Linked DNA regions of Homo sapiens. The protein of the gene in region 3 interacts with the protein of the main gene of each other region in a biochemical or structural test. Each region holds a gene or a part of one and is shown on either strand. Other genes may lie near its edges. The genes, in order: FRMPD1, SLCO1C1, GRIP1, ADGRA1, SH2D3C, RCN2 and ERBIN.

The links.
Region 1: the proteins of GRIP1 (region 3) and FRMPD1 interact in a test that uses a peptide from one of them, tested with the Homo sapiens proteins (one large-scale study listed by IntAct).
Region 2: the proteins of GRIP1 (region 3) and SLCO1C1 interact in a test that uses a peptide from one of them, tested with the Homo sapiens proteins (one large-scale study listed by IntAct).
Region 4: the proteins of GRIP1 (region 3) and ADGRA1 interact in a test that uses a peptide from one of them, tested with the Homo sapiens proteins (one large-scale study listed by IntAct).
Region 5: the proteins of GRIP1 (region 3) and SH2D3C interact in a test that uses a peptide from one of them, tested with the Homo sapiens proteins (one large-scale study listed by IntAct).
Region 6: the proteins of GRIP1 (region 3) and RCN2 interact in a test that uses a peptide from one of them, tested with the Homo sapiens proteins (one large-scale study listed by IntAct).
Region 7: the proteins of GRIP1 (region 3) and ERBIN interact in a test that uses a peptide from one of them, tested with the Homo sapiens proteins (one large-scale study listed by IntAct).

Annotation. Positions count from the first base shown.
Region 1 is NC_000009.12:37,706,454-37,709,953, reverse strand, and holds part of FRMPD1 (FERM and PDZ domain-containing protein 1), read right to left. Parts: intron 2,539-3,500; coding exon 2,381-2,538; intron 1,556-2,380; coding exon 1,453-1,555; intron 1-1,452. UniProt on the Homo sapiens protein: Stabilizes membrane-bound GPSM1, and thereby promotes its interaction with GNAI1.
Region 2 is NC_000012.12:20,733,332-20,736,831, forward strand, and holds part of SLCO1C1 (solute carrier organic anion transporter family member 1C1), read left to right. Parts: intron 1-3,500. UniProt on the Homo sapiens protein: Mediates the Na(+)-independent high affinity transport of organic anions such as the thyroid hormones L-thyroxine (T4), L-thyroxine sulfate (T4S), and 3,3',5'-triiodo-L-thyronine (reverse T3, rT3) at the plasma membrane.
Region 3 is NC_000012.12:66,669,077-66,672,576, reverse strand, and holds part of GRIP1 (glutamate receptor-interacting protein 1), read left to right. Parts: intron 1-3,500. UniProt on the Homo sapiens protein: May play a role as a localized scaffold for the assembly of a multiprotein signaling complex and as mediator of the trafficking of its binding partners at specific subcellular location in neurons.
Region 4 is NC_000010.11:133,101,424-133,104,923, forward strand, and holds part of ADGRA1 (adhesion G protein-coupled receptor A1), read left to right. Parts: intron 1-822; exon of another isoform or gene 823-915; intron 916-1,273; coding exon 1,274-1,419; intron 1,420-3,500.
Region 5 is NC_000009.12:127,744,167-127,747,666, reverse strand, and holds part of SH2D3C (SH2 domain-containing protein 3C), read left to right. Parts: intron 1-395; coding exon 396-520; intron 521-2,567; coding exon 2,568-3,103; intron 3,104-3,500. UniProt on the Homo sapiens protein: Acts as an adapter protein that mediates cell signaling pathways involved in cellular functions such as cell adhesion and migration, tissue organization, and the regulation of the immune response.
Region 6 is NC_000015.10:76,948,749-76,951,820, forward strand, and holds part of RCN2 (reticulocalbin-2 isoform a precursor), read left to right. Parts: intron 1-321; coding exon 322-474; 3' UTR 475-3,072.
Region 7 is NC_000005.10:66,076,575-66,079,810, reverse strand, and holds part of ERBIN (erbin), read right to left. Parts: intron 2,937-3,236; coding exon 2,862-2,936; intron 1,389-2,861; coding exon 1,281-1,388; 3' UTR 1-1,280. UniProt on the Homo sapiens protein: Acts as an adapter for the receptor ERBB2, in epithelia. By binding the unphosphorylated 'Tyr-1248' of receptor ERBB2, it may contribute to stabilize this unphosphorylated state.

The DNA.
Region 1 (3,500 bases), on a different chromosome or scaffold from region 3:
AGGGTACAGATGCACAGCACACCTCAAGTCATGCATCCCTGCTCAGAAGCCTTCAACTGCTCGCCCTTCCAGGGGGAGAATCACACTGAAACATGCTGTGCTGGCATTCAAGACCTTCTATCATCTGGACTTCACTTCCTAGAACTTTTCTGCAGGCAAACTGAACTGCTCAGCAGCCCCTACTTCCCACCCAGTTGCTTCTGTTTACCTCTTTGCCTGAATCACCCTTCACCTCCATCTTTTGGACCAAATTTTACCCAGCATTAAAGACACAACTGAAATATTTCTGGGCCCTTCTCTGTTTTGTCAGCCTACAACTTCTGCCCAAGTTGGAGGACTCTCCAGCATTTACAGTGTATTTCCTTGGCTTTTCTTTTCTTTTTCTTTCTCTCTTTTTTTGAGATGGAGTCTTGTTCTGTCACCCAGGCTGGAGTGCAGTGGTACAATCGTGGCCCATTGCAACCTCTGCCTCCCGGGTTCAAGCGATTCTCCTGCCTCAGCCACCCGAGTAGCTGGGATGGGAAGACCACTTGAGCCCAAGAGTTTGAGACCAGCCTAGGCAACACAGCAAGTCCCCATCTCAAAAAAAAAGGGAAAAAAAAACAATTAATACCACCCCAAAGCCAGATCAGCCATTCATGAAAAATCACAAACTGAATTTTATATATATATATATATCTCTTCAAGTTAGCTTTCATCTACCTCTGATTCTCGTCTGTCTTTATACTAGTCATTAGAACAATGTTGAGTGAAAAATTTAAAAGCCAAAGCTTCATGTGCCCTTAAAATGTCTGCTTGTCCTCTTCACTCCTATCAATGGCACTCCTCCGTCTTAAAGTCTGGGTTGCCAATTCCCAGCGCTAACCATATTCACTCATTTAACTGAGCACCCACTGAGCCCTGGTCTCAGGAAATCATTGTCTAGGTAAAAAGCGAGGCATTTTCATAAGTCACAATGACACCAGACAGAAGGTTTGGAGGTGCTACATCAATGAAACTACATATATGCCAACCAAGATGCACCTGCAATTATATTTAAGAAGATATATCAAGAGGGATAAAGAAGAACAGATTTGGCATCAATTTAGTTCAATCTTTGGCATATGTTACAACGTGCCTATAAATCCTTAGAGGGTAGGGCCTGTGGGTTATTTATGATCATTACATTCCCTGCATGCTTAGCACGGTGTCTTGGGCATAGCAGGGCTTTGACAAATACAGCACTCTGTGCCTCCCAAGCTCTTTTGTAGGCAAGTGAGAGAGAGTGGACTGTAACAGCCACTAACAAGAAGCCGTTTTAATAGATGGAACTCTAAAACGAGGCTGTTTTTGCTGCTTTAAAGGAGACTTAGCCTTATTAAAATCAGGGGATCAGTTATGCCATTCCTGTTGCCCATCTTTGTTCTTTGATAATCTGTGCAATTCTGTAGATGATGGAAGACCATTTAGTACCTGAGAATATCGACTGCTCGTTCCCAGGAAAGGTCTTCAGCAGGCTCATTGTTCATTTGGAGGATCTGATCACCAGGGAAAAGCTTGCCGTGAGCAGAGCCTCCTGTTGGACAGAAAATAAGTAATTGGTGCTCATGCCGGGAGGACCCAGACTCTATGTGTAATAGCGGCACAGTTAAATGGCACCCTGATCCAGTTCCCAGGGGCACTGGCTCACTCCCCCGCCTTCAGTCAGGCTTGGGCTCATGTGGATCTTAATTTTCCTGTTTATAAACCATGGATAATGTACCTATCATCTATCACCAACTTCCAGGGATGTTAGAAGACTGTCCTGAGAAAGAAAACTAGCAGAAACCTTCTAAATCAATAGAGTTGGCCAGTAAATCTACTCCATTCATCTCTAAAAAACTCTGGTGTGTATGTGTAGTAAATAGAAATCAATACATTTTAACGAATCCCAGATTAACACACCTCAATTATGAAAACAAGCACTGGACTTTCCCCACCTGCTCCTCTCCACCCTGGTACAGCCTGTATTTCACAAGGTTCAAATGAAAACAAATCAATGGTTTCTATTACTGTCTGACCAGAAAGTATCCCCAGCTAGGAGCGTGTGGGGTTCAAAGAGGAAGGCTAGCTTAGCCAAATACTTTCACTGCCCCTGAGACCAGCCAGGGAGCCAAGGGTGGGCAACGCCCTAGCCAAGGCCAGTGGGAGCCTGGGGTTTGGAGCGGCAAGTGCACTTGAGGCTTCCTCCCTCCCAGCATCAAAGTAAGGTGCAAAGCCCAAGACAGAATTAGGTGTGCCTTTTCTAACTTCCCAGGTAGGATTTTCTGCATTTTGTTATAGGATAGAGAGATCGGGGAGATTTGGGGCTATTTCCCCTTAAGAAACCAAACTCCTTTCTCATTTCCCAGTCATCCCCTACCTGCTGTGACAGCCACCACTGTAAGGGGAAGGCTCTCAGAAATGTGAAATCCATAGTCCTGGAGGAGGGTGTCTTTGTCTATCTTTACTGTGTGTCGCACAGGGATGAGGGTCTGAGTTGGGTTCCTGGCGGGCCCATCAGCTGCAGCAACTTTAGCCCTGGAAGAGAAGGAGTATGTAAAAAAGAGAAAGAGAAGACTCTAGTTGTTGGTCACGAACTGGGTCAGCCCTAAGCATCATGGAGAAAGATGCAGAACTGAGCAGACACCAATTCTCCTCTTGAGACAAATAAGACACCAACTCCACTAGCAGAACTTAGGACTGTCCTCTAAAAGAGAAGTCGTATTGCCAGGCATTCTTAATGAGCTAATGCTAAATATCTAGAAAGCGCCCAGGAAGTGCTATGGACACACAGAGAAGGGGGAGAGCAGTTTCACCTTTGTAGGGCAGGGAATAGGGAATCAGGGACGCATCTGGTACTTGGAAGAGGTGGCATTTGAGCTGCACTCTGAGACATGTCTAGGGTATACCTATACAGCCCAGATCCTGGCACACAGAAGATATTCAATAACTGCTGCTGAGTGAATCAATGAATGAATGGATGGATGGATGGATGGATGGATGGATGGATGGATGGACGGACTGACAGAAGAACAGGCAGATGGGCATCCCAGGCAGGACATACTGCTGGAGTCAGAGGTACAGGAGAGGAAAAACATGGATGGTGAGCAGAAACAAGGAGTTGTCAGGTTCAGATGTTTGATGACGGATAATTTTATAGCAAGATTTTGTCTTTGGTGATGTTTTTCTTTGTTTCTTTATGATGAATTTTGCTTCCCTTTAAGCTTTGTAACTGCAAGGTTTCCAATATAAAATCTCAGATAGCAAGGACTCCCTCTATATCAACTTTTAAAACATGTATGTTCCTTAAAAGCAGGAAAGTAATATTTTCTATCTCTCAAAGAGAGAAACCACAAAGCGAGTCACAAGTTATTTGTCATTCACCTGTGGCAAATGATTTTTCCCTCTAACAGTCAGTGGTTCTTTCTGAGGAAGGTCAAATAGTGATGGGATGAGGTGTTTATTGTCATTATGAACAACAGAAATGTGAAGGAGTAATA
Region 2 (3,500 bases), about 46 Mb from region 3:
ACTAGAGAACCAACCTGATTAATTTAGAAAAACAACATGATAGCAGAAATACAAACCTTGAATAATGCCTCTGTCTATTCTTAATGAAATGATGTACATGTGGTTTAAACTAATCCAACTTCAATTTTCCCATCTTAAAAACAGAAGTAATAACTACCTTTTAAACTTTTGTAAGGTTTAAGCAAGCTAACATACATGAAAGTGAATGCTACTTGCCTGACACAAGCTAAATGTGCCATTCATGGAAACAATTGTTTTCTTCCTCCTTTGAACATCTGAGGAACTGGAGTTACCTCTTTGCAATCCTCCATAGTTGCTGTTGTGCTTGAATCATGTAAAGTTTCAGGAAACAACGCCTGTCCTTCAACCCAGTGTTCCCCATAAAAGTTCTCTTTAGCTGAGTGTCTTGCAATTGGTCAGGAGAATATTTAGTGATGCCTTCAGGCCTCTCATCTTGTATGGGGTGGGTGATTACATTGCTTGGTTTCCAGAGTCTCTCTCAATACAAGGTTGAATCTTGTAGGAACTATATTGCCCTTGCCCATTGAGAGTCTTTCCCATCACTCTACCACTTCACATGAATTTCCAGAGGTAACTTTCTTCATCATTTCACCTATATATGCATTATTTGTTTTCTAAAAAAATTATCGAGTCTCCATCATGTGCCAGGAAGGCCTTCCCAACTGTATCTGCCTGGCCACCTGAAACTCTGCCTGTGGCTCAAAAGCAAACACTCCTGACACTATATTCTGTTTCCTGCCTATTCTGTGGCTTCTTGCTTACAGCCTGCTGTCCATCTCCCGTCCTACTCTTGCTTCCCTGCTTATCTGTCTTGTCTCTATGTTCCAACTTCCATCACCTTTATTAACCTGGTTTCATCTGCTGCTAAATGAGCGCCTGTTATAGTTTTGGCCATCTACAATGTTCAGGAAGATTGGTGAATGCAAAGTTCATAAATTACGGCTTCTGGGAGTTATCACAGCCACATTGTTAGACTCAGCTGAGTGTAGTGCTGCCTTAGTGAAAGTCAGTGATATGGATTAAGAATGTTAGTTGTAACAATGAAATGGAAGATGATTCTGGAGAGAGCAGAAGCCCAGTGCCATCTTTAACTGTCCCAGAAATCCTCACGGTAGAGGGACAGTTGTAGAGGACTTTATAGTTTGTGATTTCCAAAACACCTTAACTTTCATGATCTCATTATATCCTCAAAACACCTTTATGAGTTTAGTTTTGTTATCCTTGTTTAAAAGAAACTGCATGGATCTGGGGTTTGAACACAGGCGTGACTCAAAGTAGAACATTCTTTCTGCATCATAATTTCTAAGCCAAAAGTAAACACAAAGCAGACAACAAAAGCAAACTTTGAGATTCCCATTAAAAGTATTCCTACATAATCAAAGATTAAATATTTTAAACAAATAAAAGGTAACATTTTCATTGAGTGAGTACTAGCCTCTTCAAAGGAGTCACCTTGAAAGACTATAATTGTATTGCAGTAATGCTACTGTTGTTTAAAATATTCTAAGACTCTTATTTTGAATTTCTTTGTATATTTTTGAGAATATTCTTAACAAGGGCAAAGATTTAACCTTTAAGGAAAAGCTCTCATCTTTCAGCATAACTATCTTGAAAGGAAATCTCATTTGGGCATAAACATTCTGGCATATTTGTTAAAACTCGTCTTATAATTAAAATTCTAAATTACAAATCTACTGTCAGCACATCCTTCAGAAAAGATGTATCCCAATGATTCCTGCCCCTGATGATAAATTAAACTTTCAATACTATAAAGTATTTTTCTTTATAAAATATAAAATGTTTCCCATGGGTTTTTCCATGTTGCTTTATTCCAAACGCTGTCTTGACCTGAATATTCAATAGGAAAACTGAAGACAAGTCTTAGATATGATAATGGAAGAAATCTCTCTTCTGCAATAACAAGGACAACTCTGATGTGGACATAAGAATTTACAATCAAGAAACCTGGCAGGGTTCAGTTTCCAGGTTTGTCACTAGCAAGCAGTGTGAATTTGAGCATGTTACCCACCCACGTAGGGGCTGACTTCCTTGATCTGCCAAGTAAGAGGTTGGCATAGATTACTCCAATGTTCCCTCCAGCTCCAACCTTCTATAATCTCAGCCCTACAGTTTCCAGAGTTAAATGATTCTAGACTTTAAAAGGCAGTTTTATACTTTCAGATAATACAAACAGTCTCAGTTAACAATTAAAATTTTATGGAAGAGAATAGGATTAAACATTCCTATAGCACATCTCAGAAGGCCTAGTTCAGTACCCTTTCACACTATTTGGAGACATCTCAGAGGTCTTTGGTTTGTACTTTTGAGGTGACAAAATTCATCATACCAGTTCTACTAGATGAAGTATTACACTGATTAAGAAATTATGGTTGCCATCATTAATGACAATACTTCTCAGAGGCAGAGGCTCAAGTGATTAATTTATTTCTCCAAAATAAAGTACCATTTTTTAATTGACTAACTTACTGGAAATTTTGTTTCTTAGCTTGCTGTGTGACAGGAATTATTCCTGGTTCTGGACATATGGGAGTGAATACAAAAATAGTTCCTGCCTCTCTTGATTGTACAGTTCAGTGTATTTTTTGTTTGTTTAAGCTCCTCAGCTATCTTTATAAAAAATGGGAGGAAAGATATGAGGAATAAGCAAATAAATAAATTTGAAAATAAGGAGCAGAAAAAATGAAGTATGGAGGGCCAATGAATGGCACATATGGTGCAGATAGAAATGACATACCATTGCAAAAGTTCCTTTTGAGAAGAGTAGAGGAATATGAATAGCAAAAAAAAGGATAAAAGCAGAAGGATTAGGCCATTCAGGTGACAGAAAAAAAAGTGAGGGAGAGAGAATACTGGGAGAGATGAAGGATAAATATAAAAGCGAATGGCAGAGAACAAAAAAAAATGAAGGAGAAAAGAAAGAATGCAATCACAATTTTGTGAAATAACTCAAAAAAACCAATTTTGGGGGGGGGTGCAAATTTTGTCTCATTAATGTTTGTAACCATCTCCTATTCTCCCGGAGCTAGCACTTAGTAGGCTTCCAGTAAAATTTTATCAACAAATAAATGGGTAAGTCATTGAACTTACTTGTGAATTTGAGTAAGAAAGGATGCTATAAGATATGAAAGAGCACTATACACTGGGAGGATACACAGGAGAAAGGTTGAATGAACTGGGAATGCACTTGTTGGTTACACACATGCAAGAGGACATGTAACTCCTGCAAACACTGAAAGAGAATTAACTGATAACTGATTGGCTATTTTTCCTTTTACTGGACCATTAGTAATATCCATTCCACTCATACTTAGACAACAATTCTGAATGAAATTTGCACACACACAACACACACACACACCCCACCTGTGATGCATTGAAGTAGTGTCATAAATTGCTCTAAAAGTTTACTTTTCTACCTTGTTAGCTATTTTTATACACCTTTGCACAGAAGTATATTA
Region 3 (3,500 bases):
CTTTATTAAATATACAGAAGAAAATCTTATTTGCAGATTTTTAAAATAATTATTTGTTTCAGTATCGCATATATCCAAAAAAAAAATGCACCCAGATATTTATTACATGTAGCTCCTTAAAGGATGTTACTGCACCCTTCAAACCAAGGAAACTTTGACCTTGCCATTACAAAAAGCAATAAAAGCAGTGGTCTTGGATGTCTCAGTCAATGATGACCACCTAAATTCAGGCAAAGCTCGGGGTATTAGAAAGTGAGAAAGAGCTTCTTACTAATAATTCCAACTACATTATTAAATAGCTGAATATATGAAGAATACAATAAGTTACATTTGTACTAAGGAAATTTCTATTCATTTTCAAAACAGATGAATTAGGAGAAAAGGTAAAACTAAATATCACTAAAGATATGTTGTCATCATAATAATGGAAACCAATGGAGGAAAACAAATTGATTTACAAATTATTATGCTTTTTAATAAGTTGAAATTATATGTATAATACATGTTTTGTCTTACATCTTCTTCCTAATATTCTGCCCATTTGTGCACATTAGCACACACTTGTCATAGGAAACTGTTACTGTCTCTGTAGTATTTCCTTATGTGGATAATATATCTTTAGTTTGTTTCCCAGTTTTCAGTCTAATACATGATACTGAATTGTCTTTAAAGAATTTATTTTGTGCTTTAAATTGTTGCCTTCATGTATCTTCACTTTCAAGTCTTCTGATACATATTGTCTGAGAAATGTGTTTAGGATACACGTCCCACACATTTTCCCCAAGGCTTTCTTAAGCTAATAGAGGTGGCAGAGAGAAAAACAGTGGGAGAAATAGCGTTTGGATACCGTAATATCTAAAAACCAAAGCAAAGATGAGAGAAGGAGAGGCGAGAAGCAGCCCTTCTGTTTTGTAAGTGGGTCATTGCTGACCTTTGAGAGAACAGTTTTCACAGGGTATTGATGTCCAAACCAGATTATAAGGATTCTCTGCATTAAAGGCAACAAGGGCAGACCACTCTTTTAAGAAGTCTGAAGGTGAAAGTTAGGCTGTAGATGGGCAGCAGCCTGTGGGGGTGGAGGGCGGGGTCATGGGGGATAAGGAAGGCTATTATAGGATGGGAGAAATCTGAGCATTTTTTAAAAGGATAGAACCAGTAGGGAGGTAAAATTTCAAGATGCAAACTAGAAGAGGGATGAACTCTAGAACCAGGCAAGACAGTGTGAGTGTGAGACCACGAGACAGATGGCAGCCAGCTAGAGTGAGCAAGAGGGACACTCTTGTCACAGAGACAGGAAAGCATAGGAAGAAAGACTTTGAGGTGGACATTAAGGAAATTAATCAAACTTGACTTTCTTAGTAAATCAGAAGATGAGTCTAAAATCTCCTATTTTTATGAGCACCCAATTCAGGGGTTTCTAAATTTTTCTCTCCATTGGAATTACCTTGTAACCTTAAGAAAATAATGTTGCCTGGATCCAACCCCAGAGATTGTGATTTAATTGCCTGGAAGTGTGGCCTGTTCTTTGGCATTTTAACACATTCCCCAGGTGACTTTACTGTGTTAGCTGAGTTTGGGAGCCATGGACCTAACGTACTGGCAGCTTCATAGAGATGCTACTAGATATGTTTCAGCCAGAGACAAGCCCAGGAATTTTACTCAGCTGCTAGAAGGGAGAAGCTGAGCAGATATAAGGGCTATGAAACTGCTATAGCCTTCCTGTGACTTTGAGGGCAGAGCCTGTCTGAAAATGGCAGTGGATCCAAAAGAAAGAGACACCATATCTGACTGTCATCACTTCAGCCCCTGCTCAAGAACTACCTTAAGGGAGCTCTGAGCTCTCCCTTAGACTTCTTCAGTTAAGTTAGCCATTAAATGTCTTTAACACCTAAGCCCATTAGAGCCAGGTCTTTCTGTTATTTGCAATCAAAAGAGGCCTGATACAGGTTATAACGCATTTGTGTGTATACATTTTGGTGAGAGTTTTGAAGACATAGTTTAAAAATGACAGTTGACTCAACCATTTGCTGAGTCCACTCCTGAGTTGCTCTCATTCCACAGAACTGTGTGAACACCCCTGCAAATCTGAGCCTGCAGTCCTGTATGAAGTTATGAGCGCCACTGCTAACGTAGGATTTCCAGTGGATCATTTTGTTAAGTCTTCAAGTCTGCCCTCCTTGGCAGTCCACATCAGCATAGACTGGAAGGAATGTTCCATGGGGATGGAAATGAATATTGTAATTTTCATGTGATTTTTTGTCCTTACTATTTAGGGACCTAAGGGCTAACTGATCTCTCCCTTTCTTCTCCCCTTATGCGGAAGGTTATTATATGGAGAAAATAGTTGAAAGGCAGGGTTATAAAGTTTTCTGCTTTGGTTGTATGCGGTGCAATGTTCTGAGCATCTCAGCTCTTCTCATTGCTCCCTCTTCTCTTCTGTTACTTGTCTTCTTTCAATGCTAATGGACATAGCTACTCATGCAAAGGAGTTCACCCTCATTTGTATGGTGCAGAAAGTCTGTTGCCCTAGCCCACAATGAAGAGTAGACTTCATTGGTTAAAGTCATCTTCTATGGAGCCAATTGTTAAATGTTAAAGAATTTTTTGAACTAGCTTGTAAACACAATCATTTAAAATTATATAAATTTGCAATTAAATGATATTAAAAACGGAGGTAATGAATACTAACAATTCATCATTTTCTAATCATTACTACATTTTATGTTCTGTGCTCTTGAAGTCTACTCTATCTATGTGGGAGAGCTACTCTATAATGGTGTGCCACACATCTCTTAGCAACTCCACATTCAATGACATCAAGTTGGTAGACTGAAATTGGCCATAGTGGGAGTATTTACACCAGAGACATTGATGGATGCTATAAATCAAGGCATGCCCCGACAAAGCCACTTGTTAAACATTTACCAGCACACCACTGAATAGGTACTCCTGCTCTGTGTATTCATAAACCTGTATAGATGGCTTTCATTATGCTTTCTACATTTGATGATAATTCTTTGTTTATCTGTATACAACCATCAGACTATGAATTCCTTGAAAATTAGTATCCATGCTTTACTTACCATTATGTCACTGGCAAGTACAAAGTATTTGGTACAAAGAAAATGCCCAATAAGTATCTGTCGAATGGATAATGTTAATATTTATTTATTTATTTATTTATTTATTGAGACAGAGTCTCACTCTGTCACCCAGGCTGCAGTGCAGTGGCACGATCTCAGCTCACTGCAGCCTCCGCCTCCTGGGTTCAAGTGATTCTCTTGCCTCAGCCTCCCGAGTAGCTGGGATTACAGGCACCCATCACCACACCTGGCTAATTTGTTGTATTTTGGCCCGGCTGGTCTCAAACTCCTGACCCCAAGTGATCTGCCCACCTTGGCCTCCCAAAGTGCTGGGATTACAGGTGTGAGCCACCATGCCTGGCCAAATGATGTCAATTTTTAAAGATCTCCGGGCTTAACCAATCCCACACATTTGTT
Region 4 (3,500 bases), on a different chromosome or scaffold from region 3:
GTGCAGCACCGTGGGACGCTGGTGGCTTCCCTGCAGCCTCTCCATCTGTCCAGCCTGAAGTCGGTGTCCAGGACTCAGAGCTCTGCCACGTACACCTTCTTGTGACCCCCAAATGCACATGGCACGGGTGAGGCTCAGCTCTGCCACCCTCCTCAGCGCCCCGGGCAGTGACACTGACAGCCCCACGGCTGCTTCCTGAAAAGAAAGAACCCGAGGCCGGGCTGTGGGGGCTGCCTCTGCCCTACTCCTCGACACGGTGCCCCATGGTTTCCAGGCCTCCCTGTCTCCACCAGGCTGCATGAGGCCTAGGCACTGGGATGGGACACGACCCCACACTCAGTGGCCAGGCCGGGGGAAAGGGTGGAGCCCCCCGGGGGCTGCTGTGTCTCCTGCCCCCAGCGGCGCACAGGGATCTCACCTGAAACTGCAAACGCAGCCCTCCGATCTTTCCAGCCCACCCCACAATATTCTCATCAATTACTGCAGAGCCTCCTCATCAGTGAAAATTGAGCTCTGGATCTGATAAATCATCATAATGGTGCGACGTTAGCTTTATGCGGCGAATCTCTGTATTCCTTAAACATTTATGTCCTTTCCAATTATAGCAGTATTTTACCTGTCATTTCAAAATGTCAGGTTATTACTCCAAAGGTAGCAGTGTGGCCCTCGTAATAAGCAAACGCAGGAAGTTTCCATAGCAATGAGGAACGGCGACCTGCAGGGCCACACGAATGCCGGCCCCGTGGGGGGCTCATCCCACCCACAGTAAGAGCATCCTGGTGAATGAGGAACGGCGACCTGCAGGGCCACACGAATGCCGTCCCCGTGGGGGGCTCATCCTACCCACAGTAAGAGCATCCTGGCGTGACCCCACTGAGGACTTCACCTCCTCTCCCTTGGTGGACACCTATCCAGGTCTGAGCTCAGGGGACGTTGGTCTGCAGCTCACAGTGTCCGTGCCTGGGCCACAGGGACCACAGCGGGTTGTGCATGCAGAGGGGCGTGAGTGCACAGGCCCATGGGTCCCCACAGACTCCCTGCTCCCGTCTCTGTGCAGAAGGGGAGGAAAGCTGAGCCGCTCAAGGGTCTCTGCAGCTCAGCGTCTCCCTGTGAGTTCTGGGCGGCTGTGGGGCGGCCGCTGCCTGCCCTGGGATACAGACGCTGCTGGCCGCCTGCCGTTCTCATTCTTGAAGTTGCAAGCCCGGGCCGAGGCTGCTGGGCTCTGGGGGGTGGGTGCCCGCCAAGGGCCTGGCTGACCGCTGCTCCCCCACAGGTGGGCATCGTGCTGCACTATTCTACACTGTCCACCATGCTGTGGATAGGAGTGACCGCCAGGAACATCTACAAGCAGGTGACCAAGAAGGCCCCTCTGTGCCTGGACACAGACCAGCCACCGTACCCCAGGCAGCCCCTGCTCAGGTACTGAGTGCACATGGGCGCGAGGCCCCGCCACCTGGGCCCTGGACGCTGCATGCACCTTCTGGGTCTTGGCAAACCTTCTCACCAGGCCACCAGGGGCCTGAGGATGATCCGGTCCATGGGGGAGGGTCAGTGTTCCCAGGGAGGGTGGAGAGCGGGCGACGGATCTGAGGGTAGGGTGGTGTGCTGGAGGGGAGGGGCGCCGGAGGGGAGGGGCGCCGGTCACTGGGGGTGGGGCAGAGGGGGCCCTGAGGGTGGAGGGTCCCGGGTGGAGTCTGAGGCAGGCGGTGCCCTGCCCTCCACATCTGCAGCTGGAGCCCGGCTGCTCTGGGGCTGGTCTGGGGCTGGCGTGTGTTGGGGGCTGGACAAGCCTCCTGTGCTACCGAGTTGCTGGCGTGAGACCCTCTATGCCCCGCAGGGCAGCCACACTGGGGAAACGGGCTCTGGTGGTTTTGGCTTCGGCTTCATGGTCTCCGTAACATCAGGCAGCTGACTGTCAGCGGGTGGAAAACCTCACACACTCAGGCACTCATTTCAAGGTGGCCCTGGCCTGGGCCCTTCAGGCCAGGAGGCAGGTGTGGTCCCCCAGTGTCTCTGCTGTGTGAGGCCCGGTTGCTGGGATGGGACACTCGCCCTCCCCCGCCGCCCCGGCGGCCTGCACCAGCTGTTGGTCCCCATCCATCCTCAGGCTGGGAATGCACCGTGGCCTTTGTGGGAACCATGGGCCTGCCTAGGGGGGCGGACACAGCCCATGATGGCACAGACCTCCCTCCCTCTCTCCCTCAGTCCAGAGCCAGGGGAACCCAGACGTCCACGTCTGGGAGGTGGCAGGAGCTCCTCTGCACCAGCAGGAAAAAGCCGGGTCAGGGAGCTGGGACAGCTGCTTTAGACGGGGGTCTGGCCGCGGCCGTGACCAGGCCGGAGCTCGCCAGGGAGCTCCAGCGCCTTTGGTGTTTCCTTTTCTGAACTGAGACTGAATCCCAGACACAGTTGGCGAAAGCCAGGCTCGGAGCGTGGCCTCGAGGCCTTGGGTGCCTACCTGGCCCATCCTCTGGGGTTCCCTGGGGCTCCCTGAATGCCTGCCCAGAGTAGCACCCTGTGTGAGGCACCCCCGCCAGAGGCTGCTCTGTGGCCAGCGGTCCCAGGGGGTCTTGGAGGACATTCATCCGGTTGCATGGGAGACGTGACCCGGTGCTGGCGCACGGACACCTGCTTCCTCGGAAGGGCTGTCCGGCACTGTCCCGTCCAAAACGGTCTGAAGAATTCATTTCAAGGCAGATACAGCCACGTCCTGTATTGTTCCAGCAAACAGCACTCATTTGCACCCGGAGCATTTTCTGACACTGTTTGATTTTCAGATCCACGCAGACACGTTGCCACTTAGCAACCAGGGCTGGGTGGTGCTTCTGCCGCTGATGGGGGCTGGGGAGGTAGGGTTTCATTATCTTGCCTCTCCTGCCAGGGAGGCCCCAGGTCCCCTGGGTGTATAAATCACTCTCAAAATGCGTTTCCTCATCTGTAATTGATGGAAGAGCTGCCTGGTTTTGAAGACCAGGCTGGCAGCCGTGGAACACCCCGGCGCTCTTCCATCCGGTGTCTGCCAATGCGCGCCGCAGAGCCGTGCGTCTGTCCAGGTGCTGGGGGGCCAGCGGGCCCGGGGCTCGGCACTGACCGGCGGACCCAGCGACGGCAAGGCCCTGCTTGCGGCCATGGTGCCGAGGCGACTGCTTCCTCCTGGGGCTGCCTGGAGACCCCCATCCTCCACCCCCTGCCCTCTGGGCCCCCTTCCTGTGTAAGAAAGGTCTTGACATTGTGGCAGGGGGTGTCCACACAGTGCCGTGTTCCAGCTGTGTTCCTTGGTTCCTGGCCTGCCTCGTCGCTCCGCCTCCCCAGCCGCCCCCCCGGTGTCTGGCCAGGGCTCAGCCTGTGCACCCCTGAGGCAGGTGCAGACTCAGGAGTGGTGGGCGGTGTTAGCTTGGGCTTTGCCGAGGGCCTGCCCTCTCCGTGGCTGGGCCTGGGGCTGCTGGGGGACTGTGCTGGGAGACTGGGCTGCACCTCCTCAGGGAGGCCAGCAGGCTGGA
Region 5 (3,500 bases), on a different chromosome or scaffold from region 3:
CTCGGAGGCTGAAGCAGGAGAATGTCTTGAACTCGGGAGGCAGGTTCAGCAGTTGCAGTGAGCTGAAATCACGCCACTGCACTGCAGTCTGGGCGACAGAGTGAGACTCCATCTCCGAAAAAAAAAACAAAAAAGAAAAGAAAAAAGACAAAAAAAGAAAAAAAGAAACCAGGCGTTCTAGCCACCAGGGTTCCTAGCTCTGCTCCTGACTCGCTGTGCCCCCTCCCTCATCTGGGCTTCAGTTTTTTTGGTACCTGTCAGTCGGGAGGTTGGATTTGATAATCTCCAAGCCTTCTCTGCCTCTGAAGTTCAAGGTGCAGAGGTGGGGGGTCCCAGAGGCAGGCTGAGGCCCCTGACCTCCGGGCTCCCTGCCCATGATGGTGTCTGCTCCACAGTACGTCGCTGCCCCGCCCTCGGGACTCCATCCGCAGCTGTGCCCTCAGCATGGACCAGATCCCAGACCTGCACTCACCCATGTCGCCCATCTCCGAGAGCCCTAGCTCCCCTGCCTACAGCACTGGTATGGCCAGCAGAGGGGGTGGAGCAGGTGGAGGGAATCTGTTGTTGAAGACTTCTGTCACCTATGTGTGGTTATGTGTGTTTCCGCCTCTTTTATGAGGCGCGACCTTTACCAAGAGAAAGAACTGACACTGGAATCCTGCTAACAGAACTGTTGATATCAACATATAAGATGTATCCATGGTTTGTTTATTTAGCAACTATTTATTTGTTTTTGTGACAGTTTTGCTCTTGTGGGCTGGAGTGCAGTGGTGGGATCTTGGCTCACTGCAACCTCCGCCTCCTGGGTTCAAGCGATTCTCTTGCTTCAGCCTCCCAAGTAGCTGGGATTACAGACCCCTGCCACCACGCCTGGCTAATTTTTGTATTTTTAGTAGAGACGGTGTTTCGTCATGTTGGCCAGAGTGGTCTCGAACTCCTGACCTCAGGTGATCCACCTGCCTTGGCCTCCCACAGTGCTGGGATTACAGGCGTGTGCCACCATGCCTAGCTAATTTTTGTATTTTTAGTAGAGATGGGGTTTCACCATGTTGGCCAGGGTGGTCTCGAACTCCTGACCTCAGGTGATCCACCCGCCTCAGCCTCCCAAAGTGCTGGGATTACAGGCATGAGCCACTGCACCTGGCCTCTATTTTTCTTAATAGACTTTATTTTTTAGAGCAGTTTTAGGTTTGCAGCAAAATTAAGTGGAAAGTACGGAACACTGTGCTTTCTTATAAATACGAAGAAAGTTTCTCTGTTAGAAACATTCCAATAGATCATTTCTGGAAAAAAAATAAAAAGAATGTTTTCAACAGGCCGTATTGTCCACGTGGCAGGCCAAGTGTCACGAGAGGGGGCTGACTCAGGAGGAACTTTCGCCTAGGGTGGCATTCCATTGAAGTGTTGCTGTCTGTATCGGTTGTCACAAATCCTTCCCTAAACACAGAGCCACCAACTTTGTCATAACTACAAACTTGATTTCAAAGCAATACCCTGAGTATAAAACCTAAAATTCCTTGCCAGAATGACTTATTGGACAGTTTCTAAGCAATCTGGTATAGTAAAGCAGCCCAGATGTCAAGACTTAAATCTCAGCTGTACCACTTGCTGGCTGGGTGACCTTGGGCAGGTTAGTGCACCTCTCTGAGCTTCACTTTTCTCATCTGTAGAATGAGGATTATAAAAGTACTTACTTCATAGGACATTGAAAGGATTAAATAGACTGAGGTACAAAGAAGGGTCTTGCAGGCACTAAGAGCTTAGTAAATATCGCCTTTGAGGTTTGATGATGGTTTTACTGTCATTATGTCTCCAGCATGTTGCCAGCTCCTAGCACACAAGGTTTAGCAACAAATCATTATTGCTAATTCAGGCCGGGCATGGTGGGGCACATCTGTAATCCCAGCTACTCAGGAGGCTGAGGCACAAGAATTGCTTGAACCTGGGAGGCGGGGGTTGCAGTGAGCTGAGATCATGCCATTGCACTCCAGCCTAGGCAACAGAGCGAGACTCTGACTCAAAAAAAAGTTAGCCAGGCGTTGTGGCACATGACTGTAATCCCAGCTACTCGGGAGGCTGAGGCTCAAGAATTGAAGAATTGCTTGAACCCAGGAGGTGGAGGTTGCAGTGAGCCTAGATGGCACCACTGCACTCCAGCCTGGGCCACAGAGCGAGACAGTGACTCAAAAAAAAAAAAAAAAAAAAAAAAAAGGAAATCATTATTGCTAATTCGTCGAGAAACAATCACATGTGGCACAAGAAACTCCAGCAGGTACTCAGCTTCCCCGGATCACTGAAGCTCCTCCAAGCAGTGGGTCCCCAAGGCTGCAGCAGCCTCAGGGTGGGGCCATGCAAACTCCTGGGTCCTGGTGATTTCAGAGCATCACCTGGGCTGGTCAGCTTGCCAGAGTCAATCGGCCCTGGTCTCTGGTGATGCAGGGAGGTGGGGACATCACCTCTGTACTCCCTACAAGGAGTGAGGGAGCCTGTTCTTTGGGAAGGGGTGCGGGAATCTCACTTTGGTGGGGAGCTGCTATAACGGGGCCTCTCTCTCTACCTTTCTGCAGTAACCCGTGTCCATGCCGCCCCTGCAGCCCCTTCTGCCACAGCATTGCCTGCCTCCCCTGTCGCCCGCCGTTCCAGTGAGCCCCAGCTGTGTCCCGGAAGTGCCCCAAAGACCCATGGGGAGTCAGACAAGGGCCCCCACACCAGCCCCTCCCACACCCTTGGCAAGGCCTCCCCGTCACCATCACTCAGCAGCTACAGTGACCCGGACTCTGGCCACTACTGCCAGCTCCAGCCTCCCGTGCGTGGCAGCCGAGAGTGGGCAGCGACTGAGACCTCCAGCCAGCAGGCCAGGAGCTATGGGGAGAGGCTAAAGGAACTGTCAGAAAATGGGGCCCCTGAAGGGGACTGGGGCAAGACCTTCACAGTCCCCATCGTGGAAGTCACTTCTTCCTTCAACCCGGCCACCTTCCAGTCACTACTGATCCCCAGGGATAACCGGCCACTGGAGGTGGGCCTTCTGCGCAAGGTCAAGGAGCTGCTGGCAGAAGTGGATGCCCGGACGCTGGCCCGGCATGTCACCAAGGTGGACTGCCTGGTAGGTGCTGGCTGTGCACTGGGGTGGAGGGAGCATCTCTGTTCTGTGGGGCAGGGCAGTGAGAAGCTGGCTCCCAGATTCCCCAAGTACAGCAGGTGGGCCTGGATTCTAGCTCCATGGCTGTCCTTTGCCTGCTCTGTGACTCTGGGCTGGTCATTTAGCCTCACTGGGCCTCCAGTTTCTCCTTTTAAAAAGGCCGGGGGTGGTAGCTCACACCTGAATCCCAGCACTTTGGGAGGCCGAGGCGGGCGGATCACCTGAGGTCAGGAGTTCAAGACCAGCCTGGGCAACATGGCGAAACCCCGTCTCTACTAAAAATACAAAAATTAGCTAGGCGTCGTGGTGGGCGCCTGTAATCCCAGCTACTTGGAAGGCTGAGGCAGGAGAATCACTTGAA
Region 6 (3,072 bases), on a different chromosome or scaffold from region 3:
TAATTTGAGAGTACAGTGAATAGAATAATAGTTTGTATTTACCTACAGGGACTCAAAACAGGTTATAATAATTTTTCATTGCCTTGATATATCCTGGATTGGATTTGAGTGGAGAGAGACAGAACCCAGCAGAAATGAAGAAAGGAGATAATGGGAAAAGCAGTAGACGGACCTGGTTACAACGTGTAACATTTTTAGATACTTAAACAATAATGAGTACTTGTACACCTGGATGATTTTGACAAGTCAAATCACATTAAATTGTGAACATCTTGCTGAAAATACTTATTACACTTGACACTTTTTTGTTTTATTTTGAAGGCGCTTCATCTAATTGATGAAATGGATTTGAATGGTGACAAAAAGCTCTCTGAAGAAGAGATTCTGGAAAACCCGGACTTGTTTCTCACCAGTGAAGCCACAGATTATGGCAGACAGCTCCATGATGACTATTTCTATCATGATGAGCTTTAATCTCTGAGCCTGTCTCAGTAGAGTACTGGCTCCTTTTATAATTTGTTACCAGCTTTACTTTTGTGATAAAATATTGATGTTGTATTTTACACTCTTAAGTCTTAACCACAGTCAGAATTATCTTAATGTAGATTATAATTTTGGTCTTTTAGGAAAAAAAAACAAAAATCTGATATTTATTTCAAAATGTATTGAAGCAACAAAATATTAATATTGTGCCATATGACAACAAAGTCTTTCCTAAATACTCCATCTGTTTAGTACTGTATTGTGGAATATTTGAGTTCTATTTCCATACTTGAAAACATGGAGGATTTTAGAGATGCCTGAACAATATTATTTAAGTAGTATGTGACCGAGCTATAAATTTTTGTTTTTGTTCTAAGTAGATTTAATTTGGGAACTGACAGGACAATGTTTTTAGGTTTAGCATTTTGTTTAAAAACCTTTAAAGAAACCTTTAGAAGGACTTAGACCTCACATATTAATGTTGAGAAGTTCTGCTTAATTTTAAAATGGTTTCTATAAAGGGTTTTATTGTATGAAATAGAACTTTATATTTTTGCATATGTATAGATAGTAATTATATTTAATGTATAACTATAGCATTATGGTGAGTGGAATTTGACATTGTCCAAACCTTTTTCATTTTTGAGTGATTAAAAATGAAATGTCCTTTGTATATGTTTGTTTGCTTTTCTTTAACTTTCAGATAAATATTGAATTTAGCATAGGTTTTGTGGTATTGTACATTATCTTGCCTCATCCATTCCTTTATGTGGATAGTTCCCAAAACTGTCAAATTATTCTTGCTGCATTTTCTTATTTTTTTTTTAAATAAGAGAATCATGTTATAATATAATTGAATGTGCACCTGACACATTTTAATAATTGGTGTTGTAGCAAATGTGGTTTTGCTCTTTGGGGCTATAAATAATCTTGAGTAACGCAGGTTGGAATTACCAATAGAGCTGGTCAGTTATCAACAGTAGAGCTCAGTATCAATTTTACTGAAATTAAAATCATACTTGATAAGCATGATAATCAATTTTAACCTAATTCAGCAGGTCAACTTATTTAACTTTGGTGGAGGTGGGATAGGGAAAAGTGAAGGGAGGAATTAATTTTTTTCTAGTTCTGATGTACAGAGATTGTTTTTCATTCTTTTTTTTTTTTTTTTTTTTGTGACAGAGTCTTGCTCTGTGGCCCAGGCTGGAGTGCAGGGGCACTATCTCGGCTCACTGCAAGCTCTGCCTCCTGGGTTCACGCCATTCTCCTGCCTCAGCCTCCCGAGTAGCTGGGACTACAGGCGCCTGCCACCACACCCGGCTAATTTTTTTGTATTTTTAGTAGAGACCGGGTTTCACCGTGTTAGCCAGGATGGTTTCGATCTCCTGACCTCATGATCAGCCCACCTCGGCCTCCCAAGGTGCTGGAATTACAGGCGTGAGCCAACGCGCACGGCCTCTAGTTTTTCATTCTTTAAATCACTTTTATTTGTGGGTGAAGAGGTCAGCTATGCATTCTCTTAATCACTTTCCAGCCTAAAGTTGTCTCATATACAGCACACTGGGGGCTCAACAAGTACCTATGACTATTTGAGAAGACATGAAACTCTTCTCTGATAGAATCGACTGCACCTATATACCTCTCTACTGCCGCATCTTTGCTGATGTGAGGTGTGCTTGCAAATTGTAAGCTTCCACACCTTAATGACTGCTTGCTTGGGTATCTACATGGTTTTCATTTTAACCTACACTATATGTCTGGCTATAGCAGTTTTAGAATTACAGATTTACCACTATCACTCATCTGTCATTTGTCAGACTCACTGAAGCTGGCATATTTGAAATCACCAGTTTGACTAGTTAACTATTTGTTTTTCTCTCTAGCTTCTCCAAAATCTATGCCAGAATAGATCATCAGATATGGATTATATTTCAATCCTTTGCAGAAATGCAATGTCTGTACTACTTTCCTTCCTAGCATAAAGAAAACTACACTTCCCAGCCCTCTTGTAGGTAGGCGATGGCTAGTTCTGACCAGTTAAACATGGGTGGAAGTAGTGTGTGTCACTATCAGACTATCTCATGACAAACCCTTTTCCTCTGCCACAGCACTGTGCAGGAGGCCTCAGCTGAAATGGTGCAGCCACAAGATGAAAGTGGCTTTGATCTTGAGTCTGTGTAGGTCAGCTGGATCCACAGTGGGCTTTGTATGATCAAAAAATAAGCTTTTAATTATGTTAAGCCACTGAGATTTGGTTGTGCTTTTTTGTTTTTAACCACAGCAGAGCCCATCCTGCTGTGACTGAGTGAAGATTTCACATTTAACAATAGGCTTTTAATAAGCATGCAGAGAAAAAGAATCATCTGCTTGAACAGAGATGCTATATCTACTGCTGAGTCAAAATAGAAAATTTTAAGGCTTTTTTTAGATTTGAATTTTAAATAAGACTTTTAAAATAAAGCTTTTATTTTGGTTTTAATATAATTAGGATAATTTGAATTTATCCTTGAGCATGAGAGTAAAAATAGTTTGAGACTTTCTGAATCATTGGCTGATTCTGCCTGAAGGACTTAATGACTTCCATTATTT
Region 7 (3,236 bases), on a different chromosome or scaffold from region 3:
TAAAACACTATTACACTGATACACATAGAAACCCTTTAAAGACTCTGGAAGTGTTGAGTTCACATTTAATGTTACCTGTAGAAACAGCCCTTTATTTGAACACCTTTACACACTGGCAGGCCTCAAGGACCCATCCCTTTGCTCTATAACTCTCCACAGCAATTCTCTATCACTGTGCCAGTTTCACAAAGCTTGCTTTGGTTTCCTAGCTCCAAGTGTACTGTTTCCTTTTACTTTACCAAGGCAATGCAAGGCCAAACAAAAATCAAAGAGGCTTTCCTAAACCTTCGTAACATTTTGTGTTACAGGCAACACAATCTTAAAACTGGCCATTTTTGTTTCATTTGCTGCTTAAAATAAAAATTATAAATTAGATTTAAATGGAGCACTAATTATAAAACAGATTGCAAGTACCACCATTTGAAAAAAAAAAAAAAATCAGTGGATTTCCATAACACAGAAAATGCATGGACATGCATCTACAGTAGAGTTAAAAATTTCCTGTGACTAAAAAATTAAAAACTGAATCACCAGTAGCAAATGTATAGTCAATGGCTATGACAAGAACAGATCCTGCCGAGCTCATAAATGCAATTATTGTCTTTTTTGCTTTATAAAAAAGACATTACATATTTTATTGCATTATTCTCCTAATAAAAACATACTACCACGTAGCTCTCCCCATCCCCATTCTTTGCTTCCAGATTTTTATAGAAAATAACTGTTTTAGTCTGGCCTTGGAAAGTGAACCCACCAGCACCACCTTCACCTACTCACTCTTCAATTCAATATGCACATAGCAAAAGCCAACACTTCAAATCTCTTGCCCACATCAAAAAAAGTAGTTTCAGGAGAAAAACATTAATACCAGTTGAATAAAAATAAGGGCATAAAAGCTATGAGAGAGATAGCTCTGCCATCTGTCTCTGGGCTAAAATCAAGGCTAACTATTGCCTTGCACACAGTTCAGTCATGTATATGAAATCCAAAAATAAACCTACAATCTATACAAAAACAACACAGGTTTGTTTTTGTAGCCTTGATTGCTATGTTTAAAAACCTAACAAGTTTTATATGGTATGAATTCAACAGTCTCCTTTATATTCTGTACAGTGGTTCTTTCCCTCTAACCACAAGTTCCATTATTTCATTAATGTACAAATTTGAACATAATTTTTTGAGTTCTTCTTTATATATAAAAATAGTCAAAATATTAATTTCCCCTGTAAGTATCTTCCAATAAATCTTGCTGTCTTCCCCGCTTTTTTTGTCCACAGTGCTTATGAGGAAACTTCTCGTACAATGATGAGTTCAACTGTATTCTGGAAAGTTTTTAGCAAGGACACTGCTTGTCCATGTTCAATATTTATAAAACTGTAGCCATTAGCCTAGAAGAGGAAAAATGCTTTTAGGAAAAACATTTTATAGTTATTTATTTGCATTTCTGCCAAGTAGTTCACAAACTTGGAAGAAAATAAGAATCACTTTGGCAACTTAAAATAACATACAGATTCACAGGCCCTACCCAAACCAAGGAATAAAGTCTCTGAAGATGGGGTCTAAAAATGTGTATTTTGTCCAACTTCTCAGCCAATTCTTATGTAGCAGCCCAATGTTAGAAATCACTTACTTAAGAAATAATGTCAGACATGGTGTCGTATAATGCTAATGTGTATCTGAGGTGACCAAACTGTAGCGTAGCAGGGGGCAAGGGCTACTCTTCCCATTGTCTTGGAGCCATCACATCAAGACCACCATATTTCTTACAATTAAGCTTAATATTTACTGAGGTTCTACTGTGTACCAAACACACAATTCTAAGGGTGTAATATGAATTAGATCCTTTGATTCTCATAATGCTCAAAAAAGATTCTTTCACTATCTTATTTTAGAGAAGAGAAAGCCCAGGCATGGAGAGGCAAAGTAACTTGCTCAGTCACAAATTGAAACCCAAATGGTTCAGAAAAATAAATGTGTATAACTGTATGAGTGAGTGTGACTGTGTGTGTGTGTGTATGTGTGTGTGTGTGTGTGTGTGTGTGTGTGTGTGTAGAGGGAGGGAGGGAGAAAAAGAGAAGAAAGAGGAGAATAAATGATAAAGACAATGTAGCAAATTATGAACGACTGGTGACCAATTGATGTAATACTGGTGTTTGTTGTAGTATTTTTGTGGCTTTTTTCTAAGCTTAAAATTATTCAAAAAAAATTTTTTTTAATTAGTTTTATTTTTAGAAAGTGTTGGGACCAGAATTTAAACTCAGGCAGTCTGGCTTTCAGAATCTGTACTTTCAGCTATTAGACATTAATGTCTCTCTCTCCCTTTTTTTTTGGTTTGAGGATTATTTTTTAAGTTCTTTAGTTCTCAGCTAAGAACGGTGACAGTAGGGGTAGAAAATGAGAGCTATACTTGTGTCCTAGGTTTGTCTTCCTTCTAAGACTGTAAGTGTTTAGGTAAAATGAGTAGCTGAATGAACAAAGAAAAGGAGGGGACAGGAAAAAATGAGTTTCGCAGATTTAAAATTTTTCTTCTCCATTTCTGAAAGGACAATAGCCCACATCCAAGAAGTGGTACTCTAATCCCCCTCAAATTAGTAAAAATTAACATTCCTGAGCTTAAACAAAATCCTATGATGTATCAAACTTTTTTTTTTTTTTTTTTTGAGACAGAGTCTCGCTCTGTCGCCCAGGCTGGAGTACAGTGGCGCGATCTCGGCTCGCTGCAAGTGCCGCCTCCCGGGTTCACGCCATTCTCCTGCCTCAGCCTCCCACCCACAATTTTCAAAGTTAAAGTGAAAACATTTTAAACTGTGAAAACATTAGAGTGTTATAAAATGAAAAAAAAAAAGATTTATTTTAATTACCTGAATAATTTTATCACCTGGCTGCAGTAATTTTGATGCTGGTCCTTCAGGTTGTACCCTTGTTACAAATATACCCTTTAACAACAAAAAAAATTATTTAACTAAAAACAGTATGTATAAATAACAGAGTACCAAGGAGCAATTTTTCCTCCACACCATGCAAATATTTGAATCATGGTACAAGTTTTCTCCCTGACTTCTCTGAGTAATACTGTAACAAACTAGTTATTTTTACCTCTAGTAATTCTGACTTTAGTGATTTCTCTTGAGAGTAATAAAATTACTTTTATAGGTGTGTGAAAAAGCAATAAGAAAGTTAAAAATCATTTCATTATATCATAAACATTCATAGTTTTTGGTTAAATTGTTTTAACT